Regions from separate parts of the Homo sapiens genome. Here all the other regions are linked to region 2. Evidence: fine-mapped expression QTL. A gene starts in region 2. Each other region holds a variant in brackets. All regions are shown on one strand. Distances are from middle to middle.

What was found. PIP is the estimated chance that this variant, and not a neighbour inherited with it, causes the effect.
Region 1: its variant is fine-mapped to the expression of PPP2R2C in left ventricle (GTEx, PIP above 0.99).
Region 3: its variant is fine-mapped to the expression of PPP2R2C in esophagus muscle (GTEx, PIP above 0.99). The same link has a PIP of 0.9 or more in unexposed skin.

What each region holds. Positions count from the first base shown.
Region 1 is chr4:6,444,759-6,450,082 of GRCh38, forward strand. All of the region lies in intron 1 of PPP2R2C (protein phosphatase 2 regulatory subunit Bgamma), which reads right to left. Among named protein-coding and RNA genes, the nearest start is that of PPP2R2C, 25 kb to the right of the region's middle. The variant G/C (reference allele first, on the strand shown) is at 3,201.
Region 2 is chr4:6,469,341-6,474,664 of GRCh38, forward strand. PPP2R2C (protein phosphatase 2 regulatory subunit Bgamma) reads right to left here and starts at 3,274. Exons shown (of 9, transcript NM_020416.4): 1 at 2,820-3,274. The coding sequence starts at 2,889. RefSeq lists an enhancer at 753-1,583.
Region 3 is chr4:6,491,112-6,496,111 of GRCh38, forward strand. It overlaps a transcript of PPP2R2C not described here. Among named protein-coding and RNA genes, the nearest start is that of PPP2R2C, 21 kb to the left of the region's middle. The variant A/G (reference allele first, on the strand shown) is at 2,860.

The sequences.
Region 1 (5,324 bases), 25 kb before region 2:
CTACTCTCAGCAGTTTTCACTTTGACAGTGTAACAATCTGGATAGATCAGAGACATGTCCACTGGACACACAAGCAGGTGGCAGGGATCGTTTCCATGTGTTCACCTTCACATCCATGGCCCAGTGCATCCAAAAACCTCTCCAGCCTGGGCACAGTGGCTCACGCCTATAATCCCAGCACTTTGAGAGGCCAAGGCAGGTGGATCCCTTCAGCCTAGGGGTTCCAGATCAGTCTGGGCAACATGGTGAGACCCCAACTCTACAAAAAAAAAATACAAAAATTAGCCGGGTATGTTGGTGCCTGCCTGTAGTCCCAGCTACTCGGGAGGCTGAGGCAGGAGGACCGCTTGAGCCTGGGAGGCAGAGGTTACAGTGAGCTGAGATCACATCACTGCACTCCAGCCTAGGTGACAGAGTGAGACCCTGTCTCAACAAAAGCAAAATAAAAACAAAAAAAAAAACCCTCTCCCAAACTTTTTCAAGGTCATTCCTGGCAGTCTCTGCAACAGCTGAGAATATTCTAGACGCTTATGTTCACTATCTAGCTAAGACATGACCTGCCAGAATCATTTCCACACACATGTATAAGCAACCATGCATTTAATTAATCCAACTGGAACCAATTTAAGAGAATTTAGCCAAGTTTGCAAAAGGATAAGATGTCAAATGGATTTCAGGCTGTTTACCTGTTAATCAAATATTCAAAGAGCAAGTGACAGTGACTGCTCTCATCTCACACAAAGGCACAGCCTCATAGACAGACAGATGAGATTGCAAAGTTGAAGCTGTTTCTTTTCATGAAAAGGGAGTTTCAGCCAGGTGCTGTGGCCCATGCCTGTAATGCCAGCACTCTGGGAGGCCCCGGCAGGGGGATCACTTGAGTCTAGGAGTTTGAGGCTGCAGTGAGCTATGATGGCACCACGGTACTCTAGTCTGGGTGACAAGGAGAGACCCTGTCTCTAAATAAATAAATAAATAAATGGAGTTTCAAATGTATAACTTCACTAATGCAAGTGACCCAAGAGGTGCTTTCTAAGCAGGGAGGCCTGGCTCTAAATGTCTCACACCAACATGATGTTCTAAGGGAGGGCTGGGGTCCTCAGCCCTCTGCCCACAGTGTCGCAGAACATAACACAGGAGGACTCCTATCTCACATGGCCACATGGCCTGGAGACAAGCCCAAGGTTTCCCAGCTTAGGCGACTGCCCGGCACACCCTCCAAGGACCCTGAAAGCCAAGGCTTCCTGGTGCACATGGGTGTGGGCTGTGATTCACATCCTGGCTGAGTGACTCCAGTCACTTTACCTAATCCCTCTGTGCCTCAGTTTCCTCATCTGTGAAAAAGCCAGTAACAGTGGCACTTATCCTTATGGTCACGCTGGATATTAAAGTGCTCAGAACAGCACTTGATCCACATGAACCGCCTAGAACCACGTTCTGAGACTCTAGAACTCGGAGCTGCCCCTGCAGCGTCGTCAAACCACCCCCCACTTTTCAAAAGGGCTGAGCTTCCCTCCCCCACACCGACACACCCACAGACACCAAGCACAATTTGACTTGGGAGAGCATCGGACGTTTTCCAGTCGTAGCTTCCCACCCCCATCGAGGCTCATTTTAACTCCTGTATGGTTTTAACTCCACCTGCACTGCCAGGAGGGGCAGCCAGGCCACGGGGGGAACAGACGGATCCTTGCAAAGATCACGTTGCCTCCCTGAGCCTCAGTTTCCTCATCTGTACAACGGAGATGAATATCACTCTTCTCAAGGTGGCATAAAAATCAGGTAAGATTTCACACGGGAAAGCCCAGGACACACTGAAAAGCATGAGGCCCAGGCAGGGCTTGTAGGAACTGATGAATCTTGTCATCCTGGGGCACGTCTGCAGGCCTCCGAGTTCCCTGCCTCCAAGAACATGTCCATCAGCCATCAGCTGACTGGAAATACTGGTACACCTGCTCAGACTCCCCGCCAACGGCCCACTGTCTCCCTGCTTGATGGAATCCTCACCAAGCAGGCATGGCAGGCGCTGCTGTTACCATTCAGCAGATGACAAAAGGGAGGCTCAGAGAGGATACGGCAGCTCACAGCAGAATTCTTTTATAAAGCAAAGTGTCTGCTTGTAAAAAAAAAAAAACAAAACATGCTGGATGGAGGAGTGAGGGATAAATGTGAGCACTGCAACAGAGGCGAAGGGGTGCTGGGCTGATTCAGACCACGGTGCGGGGCAAGGTCTTGGCAGAGCAACAGCGGCTCAAAGCACAGAGGTCCTGCCAGGAGGTCCTGCCAGGAAGCTGTGGCTGGCAGCAGCCCAAGACAAAGACCTGCTAGAGAAAAGAGACCATGGGAAGGACCAGGCCTTGGGGGTCCCTGGGGAGCTGGCCTGGCTCTCACTCTCACCAAGGAGCCCCGGGGTCTTGAGCTGGGTAGAGAGGGTGGGAGCATGAAAGGGGAGCCAGCCACTCTCGGGTCGGTGCCTCCCACTCTGAGGAGGCCTGCGGTGCAGAGAAGGTCCCTCGCACCCTTCCGTGGGGACACGCTGCCACCTCAGCCAACTCCCATTATACAAGTGCTGGGAGGAACCTCCCACCCTCCCGTTTCCATGGAAATCCCCTTGAAATAACCCCATCTCGGGCTGTTGTTCTTCCCTGCGGAGGAAGAGCTCCGGATAAATGTGAGGGAGGAAGGCAGGGGCTCACTGACACCCAGAATGTTGTGGAAATGTGGATATTTCAAGGGCCCAGCGCCAGGTCTCCTAGCTCCCCACCCCCACCCCCACCCCACTCACATGCCAGCAAAGATGGTGACCTGACCTTTGTCCTCCTCCTTCCCCCTGCTTTAGGGGGGTTGCAAGAGACCATTTCCCTGGTGATTTAATGAAAAGGAGGAAACTGGCAACCACATCTGTAACAACATCCTTCCGTCGCCCTTTTGAGAAAGAGGCTCCAAGCTTGGCAGGGACACAGCCTGGGGTCAAAGTCAGGGTCTACCTCGTAGGAACAGCGTGACCTGCACAAGCCTCTGAACTTCTCGGGGTCTCCGTTTTCTCCCGTGCCTCAGCTACGGCTGGAGTAACAGCAGCGCAAGCACATCCCTGCGGGAACCACAACCCATCGAGGTCGCCAGCTCCTTTCCCACAGTGAGAATCGTATGCATCTGCCTAATCACCCTAAATGTGATAGGAAGTTTCTGGGATTCACTCA[G/C]TTATTCCTGATGGAAATATTCTCTGGGCCCTTTTTCAGGAAGCATAGGAGGAGCAGAGGCTCCTGGTACACCCCCGTGGGAGCCGCACTACGACCGGGGGATGCACAGCTGGCAAATGAGAAAACCCCGCACAGAGGAGCTTCCAGAGACCACCTGAGGGCGAGAAGAAAGATCGTCACGGCAGTCATTTATTGGGTGCGTTCTCTGTGCCAGACTCCGTCAAAGCCCTTTGCATCGTTTCCTCAGGTGGCTCTCACCACCGCTGCAGGATTTAAGAACTGTTTGATCCCTGCTTTACTGATGGGTACACTGGGCACAGGCTGGGCACAGTGGCTCACACCTGTAATCCCAGCACTTTGAGAGGCCAAGGCAGGTGGATCCCTTGGAGGTCACACGGAGAGGGGTATTGGAGCGGGATCCAGACCCAGGTCTCCTGACACTTGTCCTCAGCCCACTTAACAAGCTGCTCTGGGACCTTCCTGCCCCCACCAGGGCCGGCCCCACCTCCAGAGAGTTCCAAGCGGCTCCCAGGCAGACCCTCGAGGTCAGCCCGTCAAAACCACTACCATGCATCACTGGCCGAGGGGTGAGGAGGCCACCGCCATCTGGATCGCCCTTCTCTCCCTCCGTCTCAGGGCTGTTTCCTCACTCCCACTGCTGCCACACCCTGGAGTCCCCAGGGCCAGGCCCCACCCTCGTAACCCTCCTGACTACCCAGGGAGGTGAGGCCTCAGAAGCCCAGGGACATTCCCCGGGCCAAGGACTAGAATCGTCACCCGCAAGCCCCTTTCACCTGTGCCTGGCTGTCCTCCTCCCCCCAGTGAGCAAAGGAACCACAAGCCAATGGCCACCACCCCAAGGGGACGTGCTGCAATGAGCCACCTGCACGAAGGCTCACGGAGGTCCTGCTGAACTCCGGGCGGGGGCTGACCCCAGCAGGTGGGGGCAGTGCCCCTGCTGATGTGGCTTTAGTTCTCAACCAGCCAACCTCCATGCCCCAGAGCAGTGTTCCTTTGGGACCCAGGCCAGGTTCAGGCAAGCCTTGGGTGATGCTCGGCTCAGCGGCTGCATGGCTGGCAGGCACAGAGGAGGCCTCCAGAACCTGTCAGAAGGAAGGGCTAAAAACACATAGCCCCACGCAGGCATCACACACCCAACCACACCAAGTCCACGTAGAAGGCCCCATCCTCTGACTCTCCAAGGCCCACTCGTGGGATTTACCTTCAGATACACTGGCACAGCTGTGAATTCGCAGCACCGTGCGAAACGGGAAAAAAACAAAACTAGACACAACCTGATGTTGATCAACAGCCAATTGCATGAATCAACCGTGTTCTGTCCCAACAAGATGAGACCCCTGCGGCAGCTGCAGAGAACAGGCGCGTCTCTAAGTGCCCATTCCGAGAGAACTGCACTTTCACAGTGCACCTCCACATGCTCTCAATCTTGTTTACCCTATGAATGCATGACTTTAATTTTTAATAATAAAATGAGTTCATTTCCACTAAATATGTGCTGGAGAGGAGTGAAAACACAGAGCCATGCTGACGTGAGACATGCGGACCCCCGCCGCCGCCTGGCCCCTGTCGGGAGGGACTCCCGTGTCCTGTCGGCCATCCTCACCCCCACATCCTCACGTGGTTGCACAAAGCAGGCACGAGAAAGCAATATATTCAGCAGGAAAACAAATCTCTAAGTCCCCAAGCACCAGGTCCCCCAGGCAGTCCACGGGCCCCTGCCTGCCACCCTGGTCCCTGTCCCAAGAGTTCTGGAAAATGGGTTCCATCCCGCACAAGGGCCTGCTCTGAATGGCCAGAATCTTCTCTTCTCCTTTCACCCAAAGCCAAATGCTGCCAGGGTATGATTTCCAGAGAGACAGCCAGTCCTGGACAGAGGCACACGGTTCCCAGAGGAGGCTTCAAAACACCTCGCCAGAGAGGACTGAAAACAGCCCCACCCCAATCTGCTGGCAGAGGCTTCGGCGCCACCTCCTCTCCAGGCTTCCCCGGGAGCTGCCGAGCCCCATTTTTCTAGGATTCCCTCCTAATTCTCTTTCATCGAGTTGCCTGTCCTAGATAGCTTTGCGGGTTGCAGTTCCAGCCGCAAAATTAGCTCTGGGAGAC
Region 2 (5,324 bases):
GGCCTGCTCAAGGAACAGGAGGTAGATCAGAGCAGCTGGGGTGTGGTGGGGGAGTGTAGACTCAACCACAGGTAGAACAGGAGTTTGTGCACCTGGTTCTTCCGCAAACTGAATTTTAGCATCCACTGTTTGCCCACAGGCTCTTCCAGTTACAAGGCATATAAATAATAACAATGCCATGTGTTCAATGCCTCCAACAACCCAAGCACTGTGCTGGGCACTTTTGATATTAGCAAAATCACTGATCATCCCAGCAACCCTGTATGAAAGGTCGTTATTATTTCTCCCTTTACAAAGGGAAAGTGAAGCTCAGGAAGGTGTAGTAACTTGTCCAAGGCTGCACAGCAGTCAGGAGTCAGAGGCAGGACTTTAACATGATTCAAGTCTGACATTCTGACATTCAAATCTGTGACCTTCCCTGTGCTCTGAGCATGAAATATAGTCAGGATGCAACAGTGTGAAAGTGTGTTTTTCATTAGGGAGGCCAGAATTCTACCTATTATAATGATTATTATTGTTTCTTGTTCCGATCCTGCTCTCTGCATCCGCAGCACCTGAGCCCTATGCCCTGCACACACTGGCACTCGGTCTGGACCAGGCACAAGGCCAGGCCTTGGTTTGTTCATCTCAAGGTGGGGATAAGGCGTAGGTGAGCCTTCGTATGAGGTCCCAGCACACAGCAGGTGCTCAGCATCCTTTGGCTGCACGTTAGCAATGCATAGCTCTGAACGGCTCCTTCAACACCGTTGCACCTGCTCCTCACAGAAACCTCCAGACCCTGTAGGCAGGATTCACTCCCATTTTACAGATGGGGAGACTGAGCCCTGGTGAGAAGACAGACCTCAAGGTCATATAGCTCCCTGATAGAATTCAGGCCGCACAAGGGCAGGGAGTCTTTGTCCAGTCCCCAGGGATAAAACAGTGCCCGGCATGCAGCAGGTGCTCGGTAAATATCTCGTGTCTGGATGAAGGATTGGATAGCACTGCTCTGACCTCCAGAACTGTGCCGTCCCCGTTCCTGTGCCCTGCTGAGGGCTGGTGAATTTATGAAAGAAAAGGGGACGGGCAGGGTGCAGAGGGAATTAATGTTTGAAAATGTCCACCATGGCGCTTTTTACGCCTGGTCCCACAACGAGCCCTGCGCCCCATCCCACCGTCATCCCCAACGTAGAGATGAGCAAACAGAGGCTTGCTCCAGGAAGCCAGACCACAGCGAGCCTGGGAGCAGCGGGGCAACCTGCCAAGATCCGCTCTCGGCCCGAGCCAGGCCACCGAGGCACGGGCCAGCAACCCGGCGGCTTCCTCCAACCCTCTGTCGCTGCAGGCTGCGAGCAGAAACCACATCCCGGACCCACGCTGATCCCGACTCAGCCTCGCCGAAGCAGGCGACAAAGGACCGCTCTCAGCTCCCCGGGCCTCCCAAAGCCGCGGCCGGGTCAGAGCCCCACCGGCCCGGAGGCCCGGGCAGCCCTGCCCCTCTCTCGCACACACCCGGCGGCGAAGCGTGCGTGACTCAGCGGTTCTCCCGCCGGGAGCGGGCGCGGCCCCCGCAGCCTCCCTCCGCCCAGGTCCCACGCCCAGCCTCTGCCTCCCGGGCCAGGGCGCCCCGAGCCCGCCCGCGCCCGCGCTCGCGCTGCGCTCCCCGGGCCTCCGCGGGGCTCCGGCTCCGCTCGGCCTCATTTCCGGCAGAGCCAGGCTTCGAGGAGGCGGACCCAGCCGCAGGAGCCCGGTCTCCGCCGCCTGGCCCACTCGGTCTCCCTGACACAGGCACCCACGCGCACCTGCCCCGCGGGACCCGTGCCCAGGGCCCCTCCCACTGGGGCACCCACCCGGGGAATCCGCGCACACTTCTGCGGCCGGGCCGCCAGCCCGTGGGTTAGCGGCTGACAGTCCCCGCACTCGGGCAGGGCTCCAGCACAGGCGGCCCCGAGCCCAGACCTCCCGGTCCCCATCCTCCATCGGGGTCACTCCGCGGGCCCTGCCTGCGCACGGAAGCTGTCCCCACTGTTCCCCTAGCGAGGCAGACCAGGGGGCCCCCGGAAGTTCCAGGCCTGTAAGAGAGGGGCGCTGACCCACCAGCCTCGGGGGTAGGGTGGGGGTGGGGGTTGGGCTTGTAGGGCCAACTTAGGGGATTTTAAACAGGGCCTGTTTGGGATGGCATGTCCCACTTTTTTGGAAAATCCCGACAGTTAGCCCAGCTGCTCCTGTCTCAATATAACTCACCAGGAATAAAAAGGCCAGCCCCAAACCAGCCGCCTTCTCCCTCCCACTCAGGGACCCTGCCTCTGGAGGACAGGGAGGGGCCCGGGCAGGCGGGCCTCCCAGGAGGATCTGGCAATGGATTATGTTTTTTTCCCCCCGGGTCCCTCTTCTTCTCCAGGGAGAGGGCAGCCTAGAAAATTCTGCGGGCTTTGGGCAGGGCTGAAATGGCAAATCCAGGATTTAAACCATTAAATTTCCCCGAGATTTCTTCACCAGATTAGCCACAGCCGTGGCCTTTTAAAAAATTATGGTCAGGGCCGAATCAGGATGCCACCTGGCTTGGGAGAGGAAAGCTGCCTCCCGGAGGGCGGCGCGGAGGAGGGCGCTGCCCTGTGCCGGCGCTGGGCAGCGGAGGCCGGTACCCTCGGGCTCCCTCCCTCCTGGGCCCCGGGCAGGGTGGGATGGGATGGGGTGGGGTGGGGTGGGATGGGGTGGGGTGGGGTGGGGCGGGGGGACACGACACACATCGCGCGGTCCAAACCTTCGGAGGGCATTCGGTGCGACGGCATCCCCACGCCGCGGCCGGCCGGAGGGGTCTCAGACAACACGTACGTTACCTTCAGTCACATAGCTGTGGTCCCGCAGGAAGCTGTGGTTAATTTTCCGCGTGTCCGTGTCCTCGCCCATTGAAGGCCGTGCCCGGTGCTCTGGGCATGCCCCGCCGCCACACACCGATGCAATCCGCAGAGGTCGCGCCGGGCGCGCGGGCCATGCCGCCGCAGCCTAGCAGGGGCGCGGGCCGCCGGGGCCCCGAAGGGAGGGCATCGCGGCAGGGGGACGGGCGGGGGCGGCCGGGGGCGGGCGCCGCGGTCAAGCGAGCGCGCGGTGGGCGGGCGGCGGCCGCGGGTTCGGGCGGGCCGGGGCCCAGGCGCGCATCCCGGCCGGCCCGTGCGCGCTGCGTCCGTGCGCCCGGCGGCGGGGCCTGGTGCCGGTGCGCCTGGCTGCGGCGACGGCGGCGAGGGGACGCGCGCGGCGCTGCGCTGCGCCGACCAAGCCGGGGCCGAGCCGGGCTGCGCGGGCTGGGGCCGCCGCCGCCGCCGCTGTCGCAGGCCCCTCCCTCGCGCCGCCCGCTCTCCGCCCCCGCGGCCCTGCAGGTGGAGCCGGCGCCCAAGCCGAGGCTGCACCGCCGTGCTCGGGCCCTCGCGGTGGGCACCTTGGTGCTGGGTGCGCCACGGGGGAGGGAGGAAGGAGACCGCCAGCTTGCGGGGAGAGGGTGATCAGCTGAGCTTGGGGGGAGGGTACCTTGGGTGCCCAGGTGCTCCAGTTATGGGAGAGAAGGCCAAGAGCCGGGGTGCTGGGAAGGGGGCAGGAGGAGAGCAGCCTCGCAGGCAGAAGGCAGAAAGGACTAGGAAGGAAGGAGTGGGGTCGCAGTTGAAGAGGGCGCACCTGGAGAATGGGGACTCGGGGGAGGGGAAGGACACTGTCTCCCTTCATTAGTAGAAGAGGGTGGGTCGCGCAAGTTCTGGGGCCCGTTGGGAGCATTAAGTACATGTGAAGAAGCTGGTGGAGGGGGTCCAGCAGCCGACAAGGCAAAACTGGATGAAATGGCTGGAGGGGTGATTGGGCCTCCCCCAGGCAGGGCTCTGAGATCTCTCCTCATGCCCACCTCTCCTGACGAGTGAGAAAGTTAAAGAAATACAGAGCTAGGTACCTCCAAAACCAGGCTGGAAAATGCGTCCCCCTCCTCCCTTCCCTCCCTCCCCTCCAAACCCAGGGCTCTGCCAAACAGGAACCTCCCTCTGGTAATCAGCCTGGCACATAGTGGGCCCTCAAAAAATATTTGCCTCCTGTTTTGCCAAGCTGCCACCTCCTCCACCGTGACCCACCGCCTAATGAATCACAGTCCCCTGCACGGGACACAAGCCCCAGTGGGGATTCAGAGGTGTGGGTGAGGAACCATCAGCCCTCCCTAGGAGCTCAACAGAGCCTTCCTGGAAAGCGAGGGACTCTGTGGCTTGCCTGGGAGGGGTAAGTGCAGTGGGGTGACCAGAGCTGCAGGGGCTCTTGGGTCTAAGGCATCAGTGGAGCCATGCTCCAGGTGGGGGCTGGTCTGTAATGGCCTCCACTTGTTTCAAATGGTTCTGGGGGAACTCCAGACAGCTCCCCAAACTGCAGTGGAGGTAGGAGAGTCCAAAGGCGTTGGGGGCAGGGAGACTGGGGCTGTGGGAAAGACGAGGGAAGGTGATGCCGTCTCAGATTTCTTGGAGATTGAGAGGGAGTTTTTGAAGCTACAGCTTTCGTGCCTTTGAAATCCCCAGAATGGACCTATGAGGAGATGAAAGCCCCCCAGCAGCCCCACCAGCACTCTGCAGGCTGTCATGCAAGGGCTGGCCTGGGGAGAGGCCCTGGGGCCCTGCCAGCACCTGCTTTGGCAAGTGCCCTGCCCTGTTCCAGCCTCTACCTTTTCACTGTGGAACAAGCCAAAATCTCCCAGCTGTGCAGACTCCATTCAAGGACCAGGTAAATGCAAGGGCCGGAAGGATGTGCTTGTTCTTTGTCACTTTCTACCCCGTAGGAAAGTGACCGACACCCACATTGGCCCCCACCCACCTGGCATGTTCTCCTCTCTCTCTCTCACCTGTCTGCTCACATGCCCCCCACCTCACATCCTAAGGCCAGCCCCCCACTCTCTGTCCACACCCCCTCACCTCTCTAGCTGGAGCCAGCAAAATGGCTATGCTGGGAGAAAGACAGGCTGGGTTCAAGTCCTGACCACAAGGGGGCCCAGGCACAACCTCATCTGTAAAGTGGATGTGATGGCAGGAGTGGCCCCACTGGGTTGGGGTGGCCAGTCCTGCTCAGCAGGGGTCAGGCCTCCTGGGAGCTCTCTTGTTATCATGCTGAGGCCCACCCTCCCGCATGTTCCTCAGCCTCCCTCTCTGATCATGGAGAAGTCCCCTCTCCCTATCTGTCAATCCTGCCAAAACACCCACCCTATGCTGGCATCAGCCTCATCTCCCGGGATGTCCTGGACTACAATGAAAACAGCCCCACTCTGGCCTGACACAGTACATCATCCCTTTCATCAGCTTCTGAGCCATGCTGGGGACCCTGCAGTGGGT
Region 3 (5,000 bases), 22 kb after region 2:
ATGTCATCTCTGTGGACAGGGATTTTTGCCTGTTTTGCTCACTGTGTTGTGTACCCTAGTGCCTGGTGTGTGGCAGGAATTTGTATTGTTGGGTGAATTTGTGGATGAATGGATGATCAAGGAGGCCAGTAAGTGGCTCAGGTGGTCAGCCCCTCATCCTGCCCCTCCCCAACATCTCTGTGCCTCCTGCATGATGGTGGCACAGGCTGGCCAATGAGCTTCTGCATGGAAGATGGGGCAGGCTACTGGGGTATGTCATGGTGGGCCAAGCCAGGGGGCCATGTAGGGTGGTGGAACCAGTCCAGGTATTCCCTTGGGGAACCAGAGGGTTGAGTCCAGTGGGGCTATCAGAACCCACAAGGCCTTGAGAACCAAAGAAGTGATGATTGGTTCAAACAGGAGGGTGGCAAGGCCAGGCCATCATGGGGCAGGTCTCTGGAGGGGGCCAGGCTGGAACTGGGCCAGTGATATAAGTTGGCTCTATGTCCCCACCCAAGTCTCATGTCAAATTGCAATCCTCAATGTTGGAGGAGGGGCCTGGTGGGAAGTGATTGGATCATGCGGGCAGACTTCTCCCTTGCTGTTCTGGTGATGCTGAGTGAGTTCTCATGAGATCTGGTTGTTTAGAGGCATACGGCACTTCCCCCTTCTCTCTCTCTCTCCTGCTGGCCATGTGAATATGTGCCTACTTCCCCTTGGCTTTCTGCCACGATTATAAGCTTCCTGAGGGAAGCTTACTACCCATATTTCCTGTACAGCCTGCAGAATTGTGAGTCAATTAAACCTATTTTCTTAATAAATTACCCAGTCTCAGGTAGTTCCTTATAGCAATGCGAGAACAGACTAATACAGCCGGGCTCCATCCACTGGCTCTGCTGCAGGGCCTGAGTAAACTACTGTCCTCCAGGGACCGGTAACACCAGGGACAATAAGGAGGCTTAATCAGGATCCTCTGATTGCAAGTGACAAAAAGCCAGCCTAAATTAGCTTAGCAAAAAAGGGGACACAATTCCAGGCCCTGACAGTGGGCCCTGGGGCTTAAACTCCATGGGACCCTCTCTGCCTCTCCTCTCTGTTTCTCTCATGGGGTGGACACAGCCAGTAGCAGCTCCAAGGACATGTCCCACAGTGCCTTGGCCAGAGCCAGAGAAGGTATCACCACCCACTGCAATCCAAAAACCCAGGATGGACTCCAACAGGGTCAGCCGGGGCCCCTGCCTACCCATGGCCAACCCCACAGACAGGGAGGTCTGGTCTTCAGCCTGTCCAGGGTCGTGGTGCTGAAGACTTGATGGGGTAGGGGATGCTATAAGAGCCTCCCCCCGAGTGCTCTGGCGTCTTTCTGCATTCCACTCCAAGGCCTCTGCCCACACCACTGGGCCTGGAGCGCATGCTCAAGTGTGAGTGAAAGTCAGTGGCCCCACGCCAACCCCCCACCCATCTGAACTGATAATCCCTGGAGAACTACTGCTGTTTTTTAGAGATCAGTTCTGGAGCCCTCTGTATAATTCTCAGTAGACTGGAGCCCTCATCCCTACAGCAGGGACTCGAATGATGTGCCCTAGGATCTCATCCCAAATAAACTGCCTGCACCCACATGCCAGGCTCAGGCACTACTTTCATGGAATGCAAACTAAGAGACACCACAGAGAGGAGACCTGGGGTTTGGAGAACACACAGCAATGACACAGGTGCATACCGCTCCAAAAGGAGCAAGCCAGCCTTTGGCAGGAGGGAGGCCTGTCAAAGGCATGGGCCCCAGGTATGGGACTGAACTTCAGGGTTAGGATTCTGACCTGCCAAGACAATGATGTCCTCCCAGTGGCCTGGGGACCCTATAGGATCTGCTTCCCCTCCCCAGTCTCCCTCCTCACTCCATTCCAACACACCAACCTCCCAGCTGTTCCTCCAGCTCAACATGCATACCCTGCCTCGGGGACTTTGCATCTGCTATTTCCTCCCCTGGGCCATTCTTCCCTCAGATACCTGCAAGCCTCGGCCCCTCACTTTGCACAAGACTTGACTCAAATGTCACCTTCCTAATGAGGCCAACCAGGTTCCCCCTACCTGCAATTGCAACCAGCACGCCTGCCATCCACCCACCCACACACAAGCACACACGCACGCGCGCGCACATACACACACCCCTCCTGGTCCCCCTTTCTGGGCTTTGCTTTAAAATTCGTTGTTTATCAGGACTATTGTCTGTCTCCCTCAATCAGAATGTCAGCTTCAGGGAGCTGGGGTGGGGGGCGTGTGGACATGGAGGAGAGTCTGGGGGCTTCTGTCTTTTTCACTGTCCTATCCCAAGCAGGCCACACAGGAGGTAGCAGCACAGCTTAGCAAAGGCATGGTGCTGGGGAGAGGTGGGAGTTGTGTGCAACATAAAAATGGCACAATGCATCCTGCCCATCAAGATGACACACTCCGTACATCTGGTACACTAACAGTGCTGTGTTAGAAATCTGACACATACTAGATCGATCTAGTGCAAAATGAAAGATAAATTTATGCCAGTGCCTTCCTGAAGGAGAAGCCCGTGTCTGTAGCCAGCTCTCCACACCCGCAGCGGAACACACCCTTGAAGGACGGCAGACACGGAGGGGTGGACCTGGCTTCGCCCTCATTGCTCCCAACAGTTCCCTGTCTTCTGGTTTGCATTTAAATCCACGCCCAGCCCCCACCCTGATTAATGGTTTTCTCTTTCTGTCGACTCTTTAGTCGGGAGCCGTAGCTTTAAAATCACACAGCCTCGGTGTATTCTGTTACCTAGCAACAGCCATAAATCAACAGAACATGCTGGAATGTTAAAGCAAACCTTCCTGGCTGTTAGATGCGTTGGCCTTTTTTAATCCAAAC[A/G]TGCTCATTTGCCCCACGCCTCGGCTACACCCAGCTTCGAGCCTGCAGCGTACCTGGGTTTGCACATTTTTTAAACCACCTTAGGGTCTGTCTGATTTTTCCGCCTGAGTCTTTTGTGCTTTCTTGGCACTCTGGCCAACACCCAGGGACAGGATCAGGCAGGCTCTGCTGACACGGCTGGGGCAGGACCCATTGGTCTAGCCTGAATGCCTCCGTCTCAGCCCTACAGCCAGGGGGCCCATACCAGCCCTGCAGTATCTAGAAACACAGGGGACGCAGGAGATCCTGGTTCCTTACCATAGGTCCCCAAATCGCCGTCAACCTGGTCCGCTGGGTGGGTTAATATGGGTGTGAAGGCCCTCCCCGGGGTGTCCAGGGGAATCCCTCACTCTCCCCACATTGGACCCTCTAACACATTCAATCATTCATTCACTTATTCAACAGACAGGAACACAGCACCTCCCGCATGCCAGGCCTTGCCCTCAAAGAGCTTGCATCCTACTGGGGCAAGGAGCTGAATGTAACACCGAAGCACTGGTCTCCGAGACGGAGGGCCACCTGGACCACACGGGTGCCAGATGCCCAGAATACAAGAGGGAGTGACACAAACCCAGCCCCTAACTCAGACACTCACAGCCCAGGTGGAGGCCAGCAAGCACCCAGGGCACCAAGCACACGCGGCACGCCGTCCAGGTGGGAGCCCCGGGCACAGGGAGGCATCAGCTGGGAGCAGGGCAGACAGGCATCCTGGGACACAGGTCAGGGATGCATGGGAAGGGAGAAGGCCATACTTGGCCCTTCCTGGAGTGTGGCTGGAGAGCCTGGGGCCAACGCTCATGCAACTGCACCCAGCTGCTGCTGCCAGGGTGGAAGCAAGGGGAAACCTGAGTAAAAGGGTTTTATTCAGAGAACTCTCCTGGCTGCCCTGTCCAGAGGCTGCCCTGAGACCAGGATGGTGGTGGCCTGGCCCAGGAACATACTGTTGGGAGGACTCTGCTGTCCCTGTGACAGGGGAAGCTGTCCACGCAGCGAGGTTGCTGGAGGAAGAGCAACTTGGGGAGGCCAACAAGCTGGTGGGCACAGCCTGCCAACACCCCATCCCACAGCTGAGGGCCCTGCCTCTCCTACCCATCCAGCCTGCCCTGCCAAGGGGCTACGTGGCCTCCACAGCCAGCATGAAGTCCTCAGGCTGAGAGCCACAGTGTGGGGTGAGTATCAGGGCCACACAGCCTGGTCCACTCTGCCACTCGCATGTCTGCCACACCTGGGTCCACCCAAGTGACATCAAGCCATCGTCGGCACAGGGAATGCCATATGGCTATCGAGGAGGCTGGAAGGACAGTTGGCCCCAGAACACAGCAGCTGGGGCAGGCCTGGGGCCCATGCAGACCAGCACCCACGAAAACAGTGTCCCGGGCACTCCCAGATCACCGGTGCCTGGCACAGTACCTGGCATGCAGAGGGGCTCGCAACCTGGGGATGAGTGTGACAGCTGCCGGATCCCACCTGGGATGAGCCATGTCCCTGCCCGCCCCCACACTCTATGTCCTCCTGGTGAGGGAACAGGCACGGGATCAGGTCTGGGTTCATCCCATGCTCTGGCAGTGATTCCAAGAGAAAGCAACATTGCACGAGGGTGACAGTGAGGTGAGGATACTTTCTCCACCTGGAAATGGAGATAGTAGGTCACTGAGCCTTCCTCCAGGGGATGTGGTGAAAATCAGCTAAAAGATGCCAAGGCGCTTTGAAACAGAACTGCTGCCGGGAGGGAGAGGAGGCTCTTCGGCTGGCCCTTCCGAGTTTCTCCTGCTGGATAACTTTTGCGTGGTGTATGAGTTCCCAGGCTGCCATTATAAATTACCACAAAGTCTGTGGCTTAAAACAACAGAAACATGTCCTCTCACAGTTCTGGATGCATCTTAGAGGGCTAAAATCAAAATGTTGGCAGGGCCAGTGCCTTCCAGAAGCTTCAGGGAGACTCTGTCCCAGGGCCCCCTCCCGGCTCTCCATGGCGGCACTCCTTGGTGCCCCTTGGCTTGTGAACACATCACCCCAGTCTCTGCCTCCTCCTCTGTATCTCCCTAACCCCCCTCTCTTTTCTCTTATGAGAACACCAGTCATGGGATTTAGGACCAGTTACC